Homo sapiens: one gene and its partners. The protein of the gene in region 1 purifies or fractionates together with the protein of each later gene. This does not show direct contact. Each region holds a gene or a part of one and is shown in the gene's direction. Other genes may lie near its edges.

Region 1 (5,116 bases):
TGGTCCTCATCACGTTGGCAAGGCAGGTATTGTGACCCTGTTTTCTCAGGTGAGGACATGGAGGCTGGGAGGGGTCTAGAGACTGGCCTGGCTAGTAGGAGGCTGAGTCAGGATTTGAACCAGCAGATCATCTGACCCCGGAGCCAGTCGTGGGCGGCACAGCGGGAGCTGCAACCGAGGCTCTTGACTCCTGCGTCGTCATTCCCTGAGGTCCACAGGACAACCAGTTGGGGACCTGGGGCCCCATCCTGATGCCCTGGGGAGAGGTGCTAGGCCCCTTTTGGGTCTATGGGCTACTTTTGGGCCAGTGGAGCTGGGTAAAGACCATCTCAAACCCTGTGCCAGGGGAGGTCAGACTCCAAGAGCGCCACCTTTGGGCTTCCAGCTGTGTAGGCTGGACCAAGAAGGCTCAGAGAATTAGGGGGTTCGTATTTGATCCTTTTCCTTCCAAGACTGGGATTACCAGATAAAACACAGGGCATCCAGTTACATTTGAATTTCAGGTAACAATTTTTTTTAAGTGTAAGTATGTAGCCAATATTGCATGAGAAATACTCATGCTAAAAAGTTATTCGTCGTTTATCTGAAATGCAAGTTCAAATTTAACCGAGTACCCTGTATTTTTATTTGCTAAATCTAGAAACCCTCTCCAAGAGGCTCCTTGGCCCACTCACAGGGAGAGCCCGATCTCCCTCTAGACAGGGGAGGCCCCCTTTCTCAGGCCAGAAAAGATCTTGTAGTAAACTACTCAAGAGGCTGAGGCAGGAGGATCGCTTGAGCCCAGGAATTCAAGACCTGCCTGGGCAACAGAGCAAGACCCTGTCTCTAGGGAAGATATCCTACCGTAGCCTCCCTCGGGGACTCCCATTCCTCCCACCTCAGGGCCAGTCAAGGGAACAGGCCTCTGCTCTGGGCAGAAGTGCTGGCAGCCGCTCTCTGAAAAGCTAGGTGTTGCCTCAGGGTCTCCCGGTGTCCTGTGGAAAATGCCTGGCCACGGTTTCCATGGTTCCCAGGCTCCAACCCTGCAGTTCTCAGCCCTCATTCAGGAGGGGCCTCGGCAGGGTGGGGGGTGCCGTCTTTCCCTTGCTGGAGCCCCAAGGACTCTGCCGGCTCCCTCGCTTTGGCAGCAGCACTGCCCACCCTGTCTCTGGAGGTTCCCCCGCCTCAATCCACCCAGCTACCCCGAAAGGCACAATCATAGGCCTTTCTCGTCTTTTAAGGGTTTTTACTTCCATGGGGAACTATGTGTTGGATGAGAAAAGTATCCGGGGAAGGGGACAGAGGTTCAGAAAGCTCTGCGAGTCCTGGACGCTGGTCTGCCTTCTTGGCTCACCCTGGAAGGTGGACGCTGGCCCCACACATCCCCTCTTAAAGACGCAGGCCGATAGCCAGCAGATCCTGGGGCTTGCTGGCCCCAAGTGAGTTGTCAGGGTTTCAGAGGACACCAGTCATGGCAACCCCAGCTCCATGGCTGCCACACAGGCCTGGGCTTCCCAGGACTGCCTCCTTCTTGTTCGCTTATGTAGATGAAAAATGAGGTAACGGCACTCCCCTGCCCCACCCTCCTCCCAGAAGTGCCCAGGGTGTAAACGCAATAGCTTGTGTGAAGTCCACTGGAACCCAGGCTCACCAAGTCAGTCTTAACCAACACAGGCCCCAGCACCCGCAGAGCAGACACTGCGATGACAACGGACGACACAGAAGTGCCCGCTATGACTCTAGCACCGGGCCACGCCGCTCTGGAAACTCAAACGCTGAGCGCTGAGACCTCTTCTAGGGCCTCAACCCCAGCCGGCCCCATTCCAGAAGCAGAGACCAGGGGAGCCAAGAGAATTTCCCCTGCAAGAGAGACCAGGAGTTTCACAAAAACATCTCCCAACTTCATGGTGCTGATCGCCACCTCCGTGGAGACATCAGCCGCCAGTGGCAGCCCCGAGGGAGCTGGAATGACCACAGTTCAGACCATCACAGGCAGTGATCCCAGGGAAGCCATCTTTGACACCCTTTGCACCGATGACAGCTCTGAAGAGGCAAAGACACTCACAATGGACATATTGACATTGGCTCACACCTCCACAGAAGCTAAGGGCCTGTCCTCAGAGAGCAGCGCCTCTTCCGACAGCCCCCATCCAGTCATCACCCCGTCACGGGCCTCAGAGAGCAGCGCCTCTTCCGACGGCCCCCATCCAGTCATCACCCCGTCACGGGCCTCAGAGAGCAGCGCCTCTTCCGACGGCCCCCATCCAGTCATCACCCCGTCACGGGCCTCAGAGAGCAGCGCCTCTTCCGACGGCCCCCATCCAGTCATCACCCCGTCACGGGCCTCAGAGAGCAGCGCCTCTTCCGACGGCCCCCATCCAGTCATCACCCCGTCACGGGCCTCAGAGAGCAGCGCCTCTTCCGACGGCCCCCATCCAGTCATCACCCCGTCACGGGCCTCAGAGAGCAGCGCCTCTTCCGACGGCCCCCATCCAGTCATCACCCCGTCACGGGCCTCAGAGAGCAGCGCCTCTTCCGACGGCCCCCATCCAGTCATCACCCCGTCACGGGCCTCAGAGAGCAGCGCCTCTTCCGACGGCCCCCATCCAGTCATCACCCCGTCACGGGCCTCAGAGAGCAGCGCCTCTTCCGACGGCCTCCATCCAGTCATCACCCCGTCACGGGCCTCAGAGAGCAGCGCCTCTTCCGACGGCCCCCATCCAGTCATCACCCCGTCACGGGCCTCAGAGAGCAGCGCCTCTTCCGACGGCCCCCATCCAGTCATCACCCCCTCATGGTCCCCGGGATCTGACGTCACTCTCCTCGCTGAAGCCCTGGTGACTGTCACAAACATCGAGGTTATTAATTGCAGCATCACAGAAATAGAAACAACGACTTCCAGCATCCCTGGGGCCTCAGACACAGATCTCATCCCCACGGAAGGGGTGAAGGCCTCGTCCACCTCCGATCCACCAGCTCTGCCTGACTCCACTGAAGCAAAACCACACATCACTGAGGTCACAGCCTCTGCCGAGACCCTGTCCACAGCCGGCACCACAGAGTCAGCTGCACCTGATGCCACGGTTGGGACCCCACTCCCCACTAACAGCGCCACAGAAAGAGAAGTGACAGCACCCGGGGCCACGACCCTCAGTGGAGCTCTGGTCACAGTTAGCAGGAATCCCCTTGAAGAAACCTCAGCCCTCTCTGTTGAGACACCAAGTTACGTCAAAGTCTCAGGAGCAGCTCCGGTCTCCATAGAGGCTGGGTCAGCAGTGGGCAAAACAACTTCCTTTGCTGGGAGCTCTGCTTCCTCCTACAGCCCCTCGGAAGCCGCCCTCAAGAACTTCACCCCTTCAGAGACACCGACCATGGACATCGCAACCAAGGGGCCCTTCCCCACCAGCAGGGACCCTCTTCCTTCTGTCCCTCCGACTACAACCAACAGCAGCCGAGGGACGAACAGCACCTTAGCCAAGATCACAACCTCAGCGAAGACCACGATGAAGCCCCCAACAGCCACGCCCACGACTGCCCGGACGAGGCCGACCACAGACGTGAGTGCAGGTAAGTGGCTCCTGCTGGTGATCTTCGGGGATTTGGGATGCGGAGTTTCCAGGACGTCTCCGCACTTGAGGAGTGGAGAGGAGGGAAGGATCTGGAGCCTACTCAGAGCCTGCTCCTGATGTTGCCTCTTCGTGATCTTCTAGTGGTTCTTGGCGAAATCAGGAAAAGGCAGATGGAGGGTTGTGTATGGAAAGGGGTGGGGATGGAAGTCCGGAGAAATGGTTTGCGGTCTCGGCTCTGCCTGTAACAACCCGAGTGACCTTGGGCAAGTCCCTGTCCCTCTCTGGGCCTCAGTTTCTCCACCTGTATTTGGAGAGGGTTGGAATGGGCACTGAAGTCCTGTCCAGCTCTGACCTTCTGTGAAGTGCACTGTTGAGCAGCTCTGGAAGCTTCTATTCCAGCCATAGCCACACAGAGGAGCAGCAGGCAGGCATCAGGCCCAAGCTGCTGCTCTCTGACAGGCTGGGACCCCATGAAAGTGGGGCCTGCTGGATGCATTTCCTGGGATTTATGCCATAGATAGTGACTTAAAATAAATTAATACAGGCCTGGAGCGGTGGCTTATGCCTGTAATCCCAGCACTTTGGGAGGCAGAGGCCGGCGGATCACCTGAGGTCAGGAGTTCGAGACCAGGCTGACCAACATGGTGAAACCCCATCTCTACTAAAAATATGAAAATTAGCTGGGCGCAGTGGTGGGCGCCTGTAATCCCAGCTACTTGGGAGACTGAGGCAGGAGAATCACTTGAACCCGGGAGGTGGAGGTTACAGTGAGCTGAGACGGAGTGAAACTCCGTCTCAAAAAAAAAAGGTAAGATAAAATAAGCAAATACAGCGAAGGCTTGGGAGTTTAAAGCTACATCTCTGAGGCAACAGGGACTTCTCAGGGGAGAAGTTCATTGTCAGAGGCTGCTTGGTCAGTCCAGCTTCTGGTCAGCCTGTAGCCTCCACCTCCACTTCCTGTCACTCTGCCCTTGGGCCTCATCTCTGTGTATCCGCAGCTTGTTACCACCTTTCTGGGGGAGGTGGGAATACAAATATTAATCACAACCACTCAATACATAAAGATATTATTGAATATCTTTCATGTTATAGGCAGGGGTGATATAAACATGTTTCACACCCAGTAAGCACTGGCCCCAGCAGAACGTTCTCTCCGGTGCCAGGCAGTGTGCCACCAGCTTTGCATATGTTATCTGATGCCAGGCAGTGTGCCACCGGCTTTGTATATGTTATCTGATGCCAGGCAGTGTGCCACCGGCTTTGCATATGTTATCTGATGCCAGGCAGTGTACCACCAGCTTTGCATATGTTATCTGATGCCAGGCAGTGTACCACCGGCTTTGCATATGTTATCTGATGCCAGGCAGTGTGCCACCAGCTTTGCATATGTTATGATGCCAGGCAGTGTGCCACCAGCTTTGCATATGTTATCTCCTCTATTTAACCTTCAAAACAGCCTTAGGAGGTGGGTAACACGACCCCATCTGACAGGGTTAAAGATGGTAGCTAAACTGCTCTGGAAAGTGAAGGGGTGGCCTGCCCCTCCACACCTGTGGGTATTTCTAGTC
Region 2 (3,500 bases), on another chromosome or scaffold:
GAGATAGAGTCTTACTGTATTGCCCAGGTTTGTCTAGAACTCCTCCTCAAGTGATCCTCCTGCCTCACCCTCTCAAAGTGCTGGGATTACAGGCATGAGCCCCTGTGCCTGGCCTTCTTTTACTTAAAAGAAAAATCGTTATAGCCATCCTAGTAGGTATGAAGTGGTATGTCCTTGTGGTTTTGATTTGCATTTCTCTAGTGACTAATGATGTTTAGCATCTTTTCGTGTGCTTATTGGCCATTTGTGTATCTTTTTTGAAGGAAATATCTTCAGGTCTTTTGGCCATTTTAAAATTGGATTGTTTGCCTTTTTTGTTGTAAGAGTTATTTATATATTCTTGACACTAGTCCCTTATCAGATATATGAGCGGCAAATGTTTTTTTCCTTTGTGTATGTTGACTCTTCACTTTCTGAGTGGTGTCTTTTGAGTCATAAAAGTTTTTAATTGTGATGAAGTCCAGTTGATCTTTTTTTTTTCTTTTGTCTTTTGTGCTTTGGGTGTCATATCAATTATTTTATTTTTAGTATAGCAAGTGAATTGGAAATTTGTATATGTTCCATTATTAGTCATTGATTTGAAAGAGTGACGTCTGTACTTCAGACTTGTATTTTTCTGTTACTTTTCAACTCCTGACCTATTTTGTTCACTCTAAGACATCACTCCCTTTGTATTTCCTTGGTGCCTAATGTCACTTGTGTTTCGTAGGGTGTGGTTCCAACTGCTCAGCGTGCTGCCATCGTTGTAGGAGTAGAGCTACCAGTCTATGATATTACTAAGAAGCATTTAATATTGTCAGGAATGATGGGCGATACAATTTTAACTCACTTCGTGTAAGTAGGATGGGATGTGCTCATTTTATTTCCAGCATTTTGAGCACAAAAAGCCTCTTTTACTGAAATCCTCAGGTGGAATTTGATAACTGGTACGTATGGCCTAAATTCCCTTGTCTCTCCTATTATCAGAACTTCAAGCCTTATGAACACTTTATACTTCACAGAAATGCCAGGTGCTATGGGGGCTTGGGTACTTGGGAACATTGTCTAATACAGCAGCCTATCAGAGGTCTATTTGATTTACATTTATCCATACATAGCTTCTATATCTAATAAGCACATCTATTATTTGCTTTGGTTAATTTTGTTTGAGAAAGCAAACTTTTCTCAGTGGGAATCAGAAAAAAAGGGGTAAATAAGGTCTGTGAAACTAAAGCACAGTTTTTTGGCTAAAGACTGTTACTGATCTCATTTTACATTTTCTTTGTCTTGCAACCTTTATGATAATTTTGTTACTCAAATGCATTTGGCATGTGATGCTGTGGTTTGAAAAATTTATGTAACTAATACATGGTGCATGATACTTTCTACTTAGGAATCTTGTTAGGTTTAGAAACTCTCCTTTAAAAAAAAGGCTGAGTTTCAGATTGAAAATTGAAGGGACAGCCTTTGAATGATGTCTCTTTAGAAAAATTTCCTGTCTCTTTAGATTGTAACGAAAGGCCAAGTGCCAGGTTTTATCTGATGGGTCTGAGTTATATTGTACAGTTTACGTTTGGCCTAATTTCTGTTTAAGTGGGCAGGGAGTGAAAGTGGGGTCGATCTACTTAAACTTTTCCTCTTAGTTCCAGCTTTACATGTGGTTTGGCTGGGGCTCTGGCCTCCAACCCGGTTGATGTGGTTCGAACTCGCATGATGAACCAGAGGGCAATCGTGGGACATGTGGATCTCTATAAGGGCACTGTTGATGGTATTTTAAAGGTAAGTACATTGTGGATTTGGGTTACAATTTGGCTTTCTTTGATGTCTTAGACCTTCCTTCAGTTCTTATTATTAGTTGCTACATACCATTTTGAAGATGAAAGAATCATATTTTTTTAGTAGCTTCTCAGTTATTCCCAGGTAGAAAAGCTGTCTCCTTAGCAATCTGCTAATTTGCAGTGGTACTTAATATAATGATTCCCATTTGAATGCTTTAAAATACAGGATGCTTTTATTAATAGTATCATGTAGAATTATTGATAGAAAAGACAATATATCCCCCATTTGCCTACTTCATACAACACAGAGACCCTGCAATAGAAAACTCAATACTTAAGGAAAAAAGCCTGTATTTTATTTCAGTTCACGGTTATGCTGTTGTTCACTTTGGCTTTGAAAGTTCCTGCTGTTGTGTTTGTGGGAACTGAATATTCTAAAAGTATTACATCATTACTGGTGATATTATTGCTACTGAAAACAAATTGAGGCTAAAATATGATGTTGCCATATGGTTTCTCTCCTGTTATCAGTTTTGTTTAACAACTATTACATATTAGACACCATTTTAGTAGTTAGAGAGAAATTACAGTTATTACAAAAGTACTATAGGTATACAAACGGATCATCAGTACAGCCTGATAAGTGATAAACTCAAGAGTTCTCAATTTGGAAGCATTGAGGTAGGCTCCCTGTAGATGGTGGCATCTTGAATAACAATAACTCATATCCACTGAGTGCTTTTTTGTGTGTCAGCAACTGTCCTTATGAGACTTATGTGTATTCGTTCATTGAATCCTCACCATTACTCCACGAGGTAGACACTGAAGCACTGAAAGATTAAGTAAGCTGCCTAAGGTTTCACAGCTACTAAGTGGGAGAACTGGAATTTAAACTCAGATCACTTGACCTCAAACTGACATTTACCTCTCCACTATGGTGCTTTCCTCATATTGGTGGCCAAGGGTTAGATTATAAAGGATACTGAATGCTATATTGAGGTGCTTGGACTTTTTTTTAACTTGTCAGGGAGCTGTTGAAAGTTTTTAATCAGATTAGCTTTGCATTTTAAATAGATTACTTTGGCTTTATGGAGACTGGATCTACCACAGTGGTTCCTCATCTTGGGTACACATTGGAATCACTTGGGAGAACTTTCGCAGCTCCCTCCTCTACCTTAGACCAATTAACTCAGAACCTGGGGAGTAAGGTCCAGGTGTCAATATTTTAAACTATATCAGGTGACTGCAATGTTCACCTAAGGTTGAAGACTACTAAGGGGATAAGCCTGGAGCCATGGTTCTTCAAAGTTTAACATGCATCAGAATTACCTGGAGGGCTTGTTAAACTGCAGTTCACTTGGAGCCATCTCCAGATTCTGATTTAGTAAGTATGGAGTGGGACCTGGAAATTTGCATTTTTAATAAATTCCCAGGCAATACTGATGTTGCTAGTCTGGAGACCACACTTGGAGAACCACTGACCTACAGATAGGGAAGCTGATTAGAAGGCTCTTGTAATCTGAGAAAGAGGGGATGAAGGCCTGAACTTGAGCATGATAATGGAGATATAGAAGGTGGGACAGAGTCAAGAAAGAATTAGTTGATAGAGTCAGCAGGATTTGATTGACTGGATGTGGAGGGGTGTGGGAGAAAAGAGGTGTCAAAGATAAGTTCTGGGTTTTTGGAGTTGGTGACCAGGTGGTGACATTCATTGACAGAGGCATCACAAGAGGAGCACGTCTT
Region 3 (3,500 bases), on another chromosome or scaffold:
TGAACCTGAATTGTCTCAACACGGAGTGAGCCTGCCTTCCTAAGGCCCTTTCCAACACCAATATTCTACGATGGCAGTGAGAAGGAAATATAGTGTGTAAGGGAAGGATTATTATAAACAATCTTCTTGATTTTTTTTTTTTTTAACTTAGAGATTGAGAAAGGTTGTTTCTAATTATTGCTTGACTGGATGAAAGGTATAATCAAAATATGATGCTAAATTAGTGTGTTTTTCCTAGACTATGAAATTCAGAGGCAAATCAATGAACTTGAGAATGGAGGTGAAATTCTGAACGAAACACGCTCATTTCATCACAAGCTGGGGTGAGTTCGCATTGCTGAGCGTCCTGACCACAGCCGGGGGTGGTGCGAGAGGGCTGGGCTCAGCCACTGACCAGCCATGTGACCTTGAAGGAGGCACGTAGCGTCTCCACTTTTAGGTTTCCTCATTAGTACAATTAGAAAAGTACTGTACCCTTCATGCCTGTAATCCCAGCACTTTGGGAGGCAATGGGCAGATCACGAGGTCGGGAGATCGAGACCATCCTGGCTAACATGGTGAAATCCTGTCTCTACTAAAAAAATACAAAAAATTAGCCGGGCATGGTGATGGGTGCCTGTAGTCCCAGCTATTTGGGAGGCTGAGGCAGGAGAATGGCATGAACCCGGGAGGCGGCGCTTGCAGTGAGCTGAGATGTTGCCACCGCACTCCAGCCTGGGCGACAGAGCGAGACTCCTCTCAAAAACAAAAAAGAAGGCCAGGCGCCGTGGCTCACGCCTGTAATCCCAGCACTTTGGGAGGCCGAGGCGGGCGGATCACGAGGTCAGGAGATCGAGACCATCCTGGCTAACATGGTGAAACCCCGTCTCTACTAAAAATACAAAAAATTAGCCAGGTGTGGTGGCGGGCGCCTGTAGTGCCAGCTACTCGGGAGGCTGAGGCAGGAGAATGGCGTAAACCCAGGAGGCGGAGCTTGCAGTGAGCCGAGATAGTGCCACTGCACTCCAGCCTGGGCGACAGAGCAAGACTCCGTCTCAAAGAAAAAAAAAAAAGAAAAGTACTGTACCCTATAGGGATATAATATACCCTAGGGCTGCCAGGAGGCTTGAAGTGACCCAGACTGTGCCCAAGGGCTTCGTTTTAGGCCCTTTCCTTCTCTGCTTCCAGCTTACCTGCCTTGTGGCAAGAATTTTTACTTCCTTAATCTATCAGATCTTTCCCAGCTGAAGCTAGAGGCGGAACAGAGTGAAGACCTGGTTGTAGAGATGCCTTATTTTTGTTTAGATAACTTGGGCCTTAATTTTCTCACTCAGAATTTTGAGCATTGTATACTTAAAGCAGAATACTGAAAAAAGCTCAAAAGCCGAGTTTGAGCTGGCTGAAAGATGGCTACATTGAAGTCATTTCCTTTAAAAAAAAAAAAAAAAGATCATTCTGTACATTTCGCTTTCTTTATGATTGTTTTTTGAATGTATTCATTTAAGGTTTCCCCATGGAAGTCCACAGAGTTTGATTTTGCCTGTGCCCCTTATTGGTAGGGGAGCCCTTCCCCACATATAGGCTGGCCAGTGCTGCTTTCAATGTTTAATGTTTTCTTATTTAACTATTGCAGGTGCACCATGTCAATGAGAGACAAAGAAGGAAAACAGGACTACAGGTGGTTACTCCTTATGGCAAAATACCGCTATATATCGGGGGCTGGGGCGTATTTCAAGTTCATTTAAAGTTCAACATAATGATCCTGAACAATTTTTAGAAACCACTTTTTGTCATTGTTGTAACATGATGGGACATCTAGACTTCCTCTTTGATATGCATACCGAGAGAAGTACTAGTTTCTTGATTTGGTAGCCTCAGATCTGGTGCCTTGTTTGACTGATTCAGCTTTTGGAAGAACTTGTTCATCCACTGCTGTGTCAAAGTTGTCATAGTTGAGCTAGGAGGATGGCTGTAGAGGTTGGGGCCTAGGCTGTTCTTATTCTAATGTTCAGTAACTGATTCAGTAATACGCTGAATGAAGCTCCTTGAGAAGAAATGAGAAAAGAGATGTTGATAGCGTATGTTGATGGTAGTTCCCTTGAACCTCATATGATGCTATTTCATGATAAATTAAGTTGAACTACTTAATATGAGACCCACAAATAAAGCAAATGCTAAGAACAGGCATAAGATAATTGAAACTTTTATTTTTTTCTCATTGAGTTTAGCAGGTTGAAGTTTTAAGCAACAAAGTTGTGAGATCGGCCACCTTTCCTTTGTGAAGGGCAGAAAGATGCAAATGTAGCTATTATCAATGAGGATCAAAATTTGCATGTTTATGTGGGAAAGAAGAAACTCATAAACGCTTAGCATGAACCTCACCCCAAGAACTCCCATTGTCTGTCTGCTAGAGTCAAAATTATTTTAATTAACCGTGAACTTCCCGGGTGAGTCTGTTCTCCCAGGGGCCCACTTTATTCCTGAGTGTTGCTCCCTCCCCTGTTGGTGCGCCTTCCCCTGAGTGTGGAGTCCGGCTTTCCATCCGCCCGTGGCTTCAGCATGATGCCTCAAATGATAGTGAGCTGCAGGAAGCTTCCCCTGGGTTTCCTCTTGCCCTCAGAAGCCAGACTAACTCACAGAAGAGATCTGGCAGTGAGCCGATGGGTAGCGTGTGCTTCGAATCCATTCCCTCCAAACCACCACTTCTTCTGAATACCCTGCTTTTTCTACATAAGCCCTTTGACAAAAATGGGCAGAGAGTAACCATTAGTGCTGGACGAGAACAGAGGGAGGGACATCTTGTTTCATAAGATTACATGCAATGGTGCAGCTTTGACACTTAAAAAAATTAATTCCCTTCATTTTTTAGAGCAGTTTTAGCTTTACAATAAAATTGAATGGAACGTCCAGAGTTCTCACATACTCCCGCTCCCCACTCTCCCCCCAGAGTCTCCTGTTAATGTGCCACAGTAATGCAAGATGCTCATTTGTTACAATGATGAAACCAATCACACTTCCTTATTGGCTAGAGTCCATGGTTTACACTAGGGTTCCTTGTTTGTGTGGTACATTGCGTGGGTTTTGACATATGCACAATGACATGCATCCACCATCGTGTCACACTGAGAAGTTCCACTGCATGCCCTGTGCTCCACCTCTTCATCCCTCCCTCCCTCTTCTCCAGCTGTCACATTTTGTTTAGGCAAAATCTATTCATTTCTTCTATTTCTCAAGGGTAAATTTTTTTCCTTTCATTTTTTATTTATGTAAATGCTGCTAAAAATAGTAGAAATGTTGAAATGGGGGGAAAGTCATCTTTCCTTCTAATAAGCAAATTGCTCTCATTTGGTCCTGTTTTTTCCAGCCTGTGTCTTTATGAAGACATAGTCCTGCATACATATGGATGTTTCTGTCAACAGTGGATTACGTATGCTACAGGAGTCCCATAAGATTGTCATATGGCATTTTTACCGTCCCTTTCTTGTTCAGACATGCTTAGATACACCAATGCCATTGTGTTA
Region 4 (3,500 bases), on another chromosome or scaffold:
ATAAAATCTCATTTGATTCAGAAGGTGTGCTCTGACTCCTAGAAAAAGGAAGAGTTAAATATGATTATGGACTTGCAGTAGAGTGTAATGGTTAAGAGGATAGGTTTCAGAATTAGACTGCCTGGATTCAAATTCTGGATCAGTTATTTATGTTTTCTGGTGACAATGGACTAGCTAACTTTTCCAGGCTTTAGTTTTCTCATATGTAAAAAAGGGGCCAATAATCTACTTTCCTTCTAGGGCTATTGAGAAGATTAAATGTGATAATTTAGATAAGTTTTGGAACAGTGCCTGGTATGTGGTAGGTGCTCCATAAATATACCTATTGCCGTTACAGTGCAATGTAAATTGTTACAGTGCAATAGACTTTCTAGTAGTTCTGTTTGGAAATATGCCTTGAAAGTTAATTACATTTCCAAATAAAATTTATACATGCATTGAACATTTTAAGATGCTCTACAAATGTGAAGTGGTACTATATTCATGTAGTAAATATCAATTAATTGTGTGAAATTATATTTGAGGTTGCCTTGTAGATTTTCTATGTGCCTGTTTGACGAACAATTGTCCCTCCTATTTAAAACATTTAAAAAGGTTCTATAGCATTCCTTTATCAGTAATATTTTTAACACAATATGTTTCATTTTGCATATGGAGAAACTTGAGGAATTTTTAATTTTGTTTTGGATAGCCTATTCACTATCACTTATGTTATATTCTGTTGTTTTTTTCATGGTTCTTCTTTTCTTTGCTGGATCTGGAGGCATGGGTAGCAAGAAACTAAAACGAGTGGGTTTATCACAAGAGCTGTGTGACCGTCTGAGTAGACATCAGATCCTTACCTGTCAGGTAAATTTTATTTAACATTTTTATTGATAAGTTTTATGCACAAGTTAACTTTATACCTTAATACCTCTTAAACTTGAAATATGAAAATGTAGGCTTACAAAAAAAAGATAAATGATGGTGCTTTTCCATAGGCTAATTGTAAATATCAAGCCTCCTTGGGTGCATTTCCAACTGCTATTTCATTTACCCAAATTTAGTATTTTTGCATTTTGAGGGGAAAGTGGTCACGGCATAAGGTGAAGTAACAGCTTTACTGTTTTATAGTTACATGAGAAATAGGACTCAAATGAGGAGATACTATTCAACATGTATCATTTCTCTTAAAAGCAAAAGAAATTAATAGACCATTTTCTTATTGATGGAGCATGAGAAATATATAGAGCGGATCTTGCATTTTTAAGCAAGGTGGTGAAGCAAATCCTCCTTAGCAGGGTAAATAAGATTTAAAGGTTTTGGTTGGTTGTTTTTGTTCTTTGTTGTTTTTGAGACTAGGTTCTCATGCTGCCCCAGCTGATCTTGAACTCCTGGCCTTAAGCAATCCTCCAGCCTCAACTCCCAGCTAGCTGGGATTACAGGCACACACCACTGTGCCTGGCTAGATTTAAGGTTTTATCTTAGGATTTTATCCTTTTTTTGTTTGTTTGTTTAGAGTCAGTGTCTCACTCTGTTGCCCAGGCTGGAGTACAGTGGTGCCATATCGGCTCACTGCAATCTCCTCCTCCCCGGTTCAAGTGATTCTCCTGCTTCCATCTCCTGAGTAGCTGGGATTACAGGCACATGCCACCACACCCAGCTAATTTTTGGATTTTTAGTAGAAACGGGGTTTCACCATGTTGGCCAGGCTAGTCTCAAATTCCTGATCTCAAGTGATCCGCCTCCCTCAGCCTCCCAAAGTGCTAGCATTACAGACATGAGCCACCGTGCCTGGCCTGATTTTATCTTTAATAAGACATTTTCACAGAGCATTCTGCAATTTTTTTTTTGAATTGCTTTCTGTGTTAAAGATAACATCGGTTCCTTTGTTATACATTTAATTATTTGCATATTTATACTCGGAAACATTCTTAAAAGTATGAAATTTGTTATTTCATCCTATAGTCAGTTTCATTCTTTTTCAACTACGAAATATTATCTCTGAGTGAACTTCTAGCTTAGAAAGAAACTCTTTCGGCCGGGCACGGTGGCTCACACCTGTAATCCCAGCACTTTGGGAGGCCGAGGTGGGCAGATCATGAGGTCAGGAGTTCGAGACTAGCCTGGCCAATATGGTGAACTCTTGTCTCTACTAAAAATAAAAAAAATTAGCCAGGCATGGTAGTGAGTGCCTGTAGTCCCAGCTACTCAGGAGTCTCAGGCAGAAGAATCGCTTGAACCCAGGAGGTGGAGGTTGCAGTGAGCCGAGATCGTGCCACTGCACTCCAGCCTGGGCGACAGAGCAAAACTCTTGTCTCAAAAAAAAAAAAAAAAAAAAAAAAAAAAAGGAAAGAAACTCTTTCAACCTGACACTTTCTGGGCATATATTTATACCCAAATTCTTTTTGGCACAAGTGTAGCGCTCATACGCACCTGGATTGGATGCTGGTGCTATGTGATATTATTTGGTGTATCCTCTGGTATATGCCAACTAAACAGGATAATTAGAAGATAAGTTTGTGTCATTACAACTTTTAGTTAAGGCATATTTATGGGGAAAATACTACAATGAATGTATAAATCTTTGATCTGCGATAAATTATACTTTTGTCTACATAAGCAGTATCAATTGAAGGTTTCCTTTTAACTCTAGTATCTTTGTTACACATATATGTTTAAAATACTCTCTTTATGTTTCTTTAGGACTTTTTATGTCTTTCCCCACTGGAGCTTATGAAGGTGACTGGTCTGAGTTATCGAGGTGTCCATGAACTTCTATGTATGGTCAGCAGGGCCTGTGCCCCAAAGATGCAAACGGTATATTTATATTTTATTATGATTTGATTATGAATGATTCCTCATCTCATTAAACATGTTTTTTTAGGGATGAGGCACATGCAGAAATAGAGATGAGTACCTCAAAAATACTGAGTTTTCTACTATAGAAGTTAGTTCTCTAAGGAAAATACATGTGAAAATTTTTTTTTTCTTTTTTGAGACGCTCTGTTGCCCAGGCTGGAGGGCAGTTGCACGATCTCGGCTCACTGTAGCCTCTGCCTCCTGGGTTCAAGCGATTCTCCTGCCTCAGCCTCCTGAGTAGCTGGGATTACAGGCACGGTGCTACCAAGCCAACTTATTTTTATATTATTAGTAGAGATGGGATTTCACCTTATTGGCCAGGCTGGTCTCAAACTTCTGACCTCAAGTGATCTGCTTGCGTCGACCTCCCAAAGTCCTGGGATTACAGGCGTGAGCCACCGTGCCTAGCCTATGTGTGAAAAATTTATGTAGTTTATAAACTCATGGGAGACAATTTCTAAATATGGGAATTAGGGAGCAACAGAAAGTTTTTATTTTTTTTTCTATAGCCAATAGCAGTAGTTCAAAAGGTCATCTTTCTCTGATTGATTAGGTAGTATTTGATGGCCTCATAGTTAAATTATAATCTTAATTTTAGAATGCCCCTTTCTTTGATATACTGACCTTTACCATCATCACTTGCTCTAGATCATAAAGTA

What was found.
Region 2: the proteins of MUC20 (region 1) and SLC25A14 purify together in Homo sapiens (affinity purification with mass spectrometry; 2 studies listed by BioGRID and IntAct, with this or other methods). This does not show direct contact.
Region 3: the proteins of MUC20 (region 1) and GATB purify together in Homo sapiens (affinity purification with mass spectrometry; 2 studies listed by BioGRID and IntAct, with this or other methods). This does not show direct contact.
Region 4: the proteins of MUC20 (region 1) and RAD51B purify together in Homo sapiens (affinity purification with mass spectrometry; 2 studies listed by BioGRID and IntAct, with this or other methods). This does not show direct contact.

The regions. Positions count from the first base shown.
Region 1 is NC_000003.12:195,723,027-195,728,142, forward strand, and holds part of MUC20 (mucin-20 isoform a precursor), read left to right. Parts: intron 1-1,653; coding exon 1,654-3,546; intron 3,547-5,116. UniProt on the Homo sapiens protein: May regulate MET signaling cascade. Seems to decrease hepatocyte growth factor (HGF)-induced transient MAPK activation. Blocks GRB2 recruitment to MET thus suppressing the GRB2-RAS pathway. Inhibits HGF-induced proliferation of MMP1 and MMP9 expression.
Region 2 is NC_000023.11:130,363,919-130,367,418, forward strand, and holds part of SLC25A14 (brain mitochondrial carrier protein 1 isoform 1 precursor), read left to right. Parts: intron 1-709; coding exon 710-834; exon of another isoform or gene 835-1,622; coding exon 1,623-1,758; intron 1,759-3,500. UniProt on the Homo sapiens protein: Transports inorganic anions (sulfate, sulfite, thiosulfate and phosphate) and, to a lesser extent, a variety of dicarboxylates (e.g. malonate, malate and citramalate) and, even more so, aspartate and glutamate and tricarboxylates.
Region 3 is NC_000004.12:151,702,008-151,705,507, reverse strand, and holds part of GATB (glutamyl-tRNA(Gln) amidotransferase subunit B, mitochondrial isoform 1 precursor), read left to right. Parts: intron 1-238; coding exon 239-323; intron 324-1,612; coding exon 1,613-1,657; intron 1,658-3,500. UniProt on the Homo sapiens protein: Allows the formation of correctly charged Gln-tRNA(Gln) through the transamidation of misacylated Glu-tRNA(Gln) in the mitochondria. The reaction takes place in the presence of glutamine and ATP through an activated gamma-phospho-Glu-tRNA(Gln).
Region 4 is NC_000014.9:67,822,779-67,826,278, forward strand, and holds part of RAD51B (DNA repair protein RAD51 homolog 2), read left to right. Parts: intron 1-762; exon of another isoform or gene 763-763; 5' UTR 764-765; coding exon 766-849; intron 850-2,685; coding exon 2,686-2,799; intron 2,800-3,500. UniProt on the Homo sapiens protein: Involved in the homologous recombination repair (HRR) pathway of double-stranded DNA breaks arising during DNA replication or induced by DNA-damaging agents. May promote the assembly of presynaptic RAD51 nucleoprotein filaments.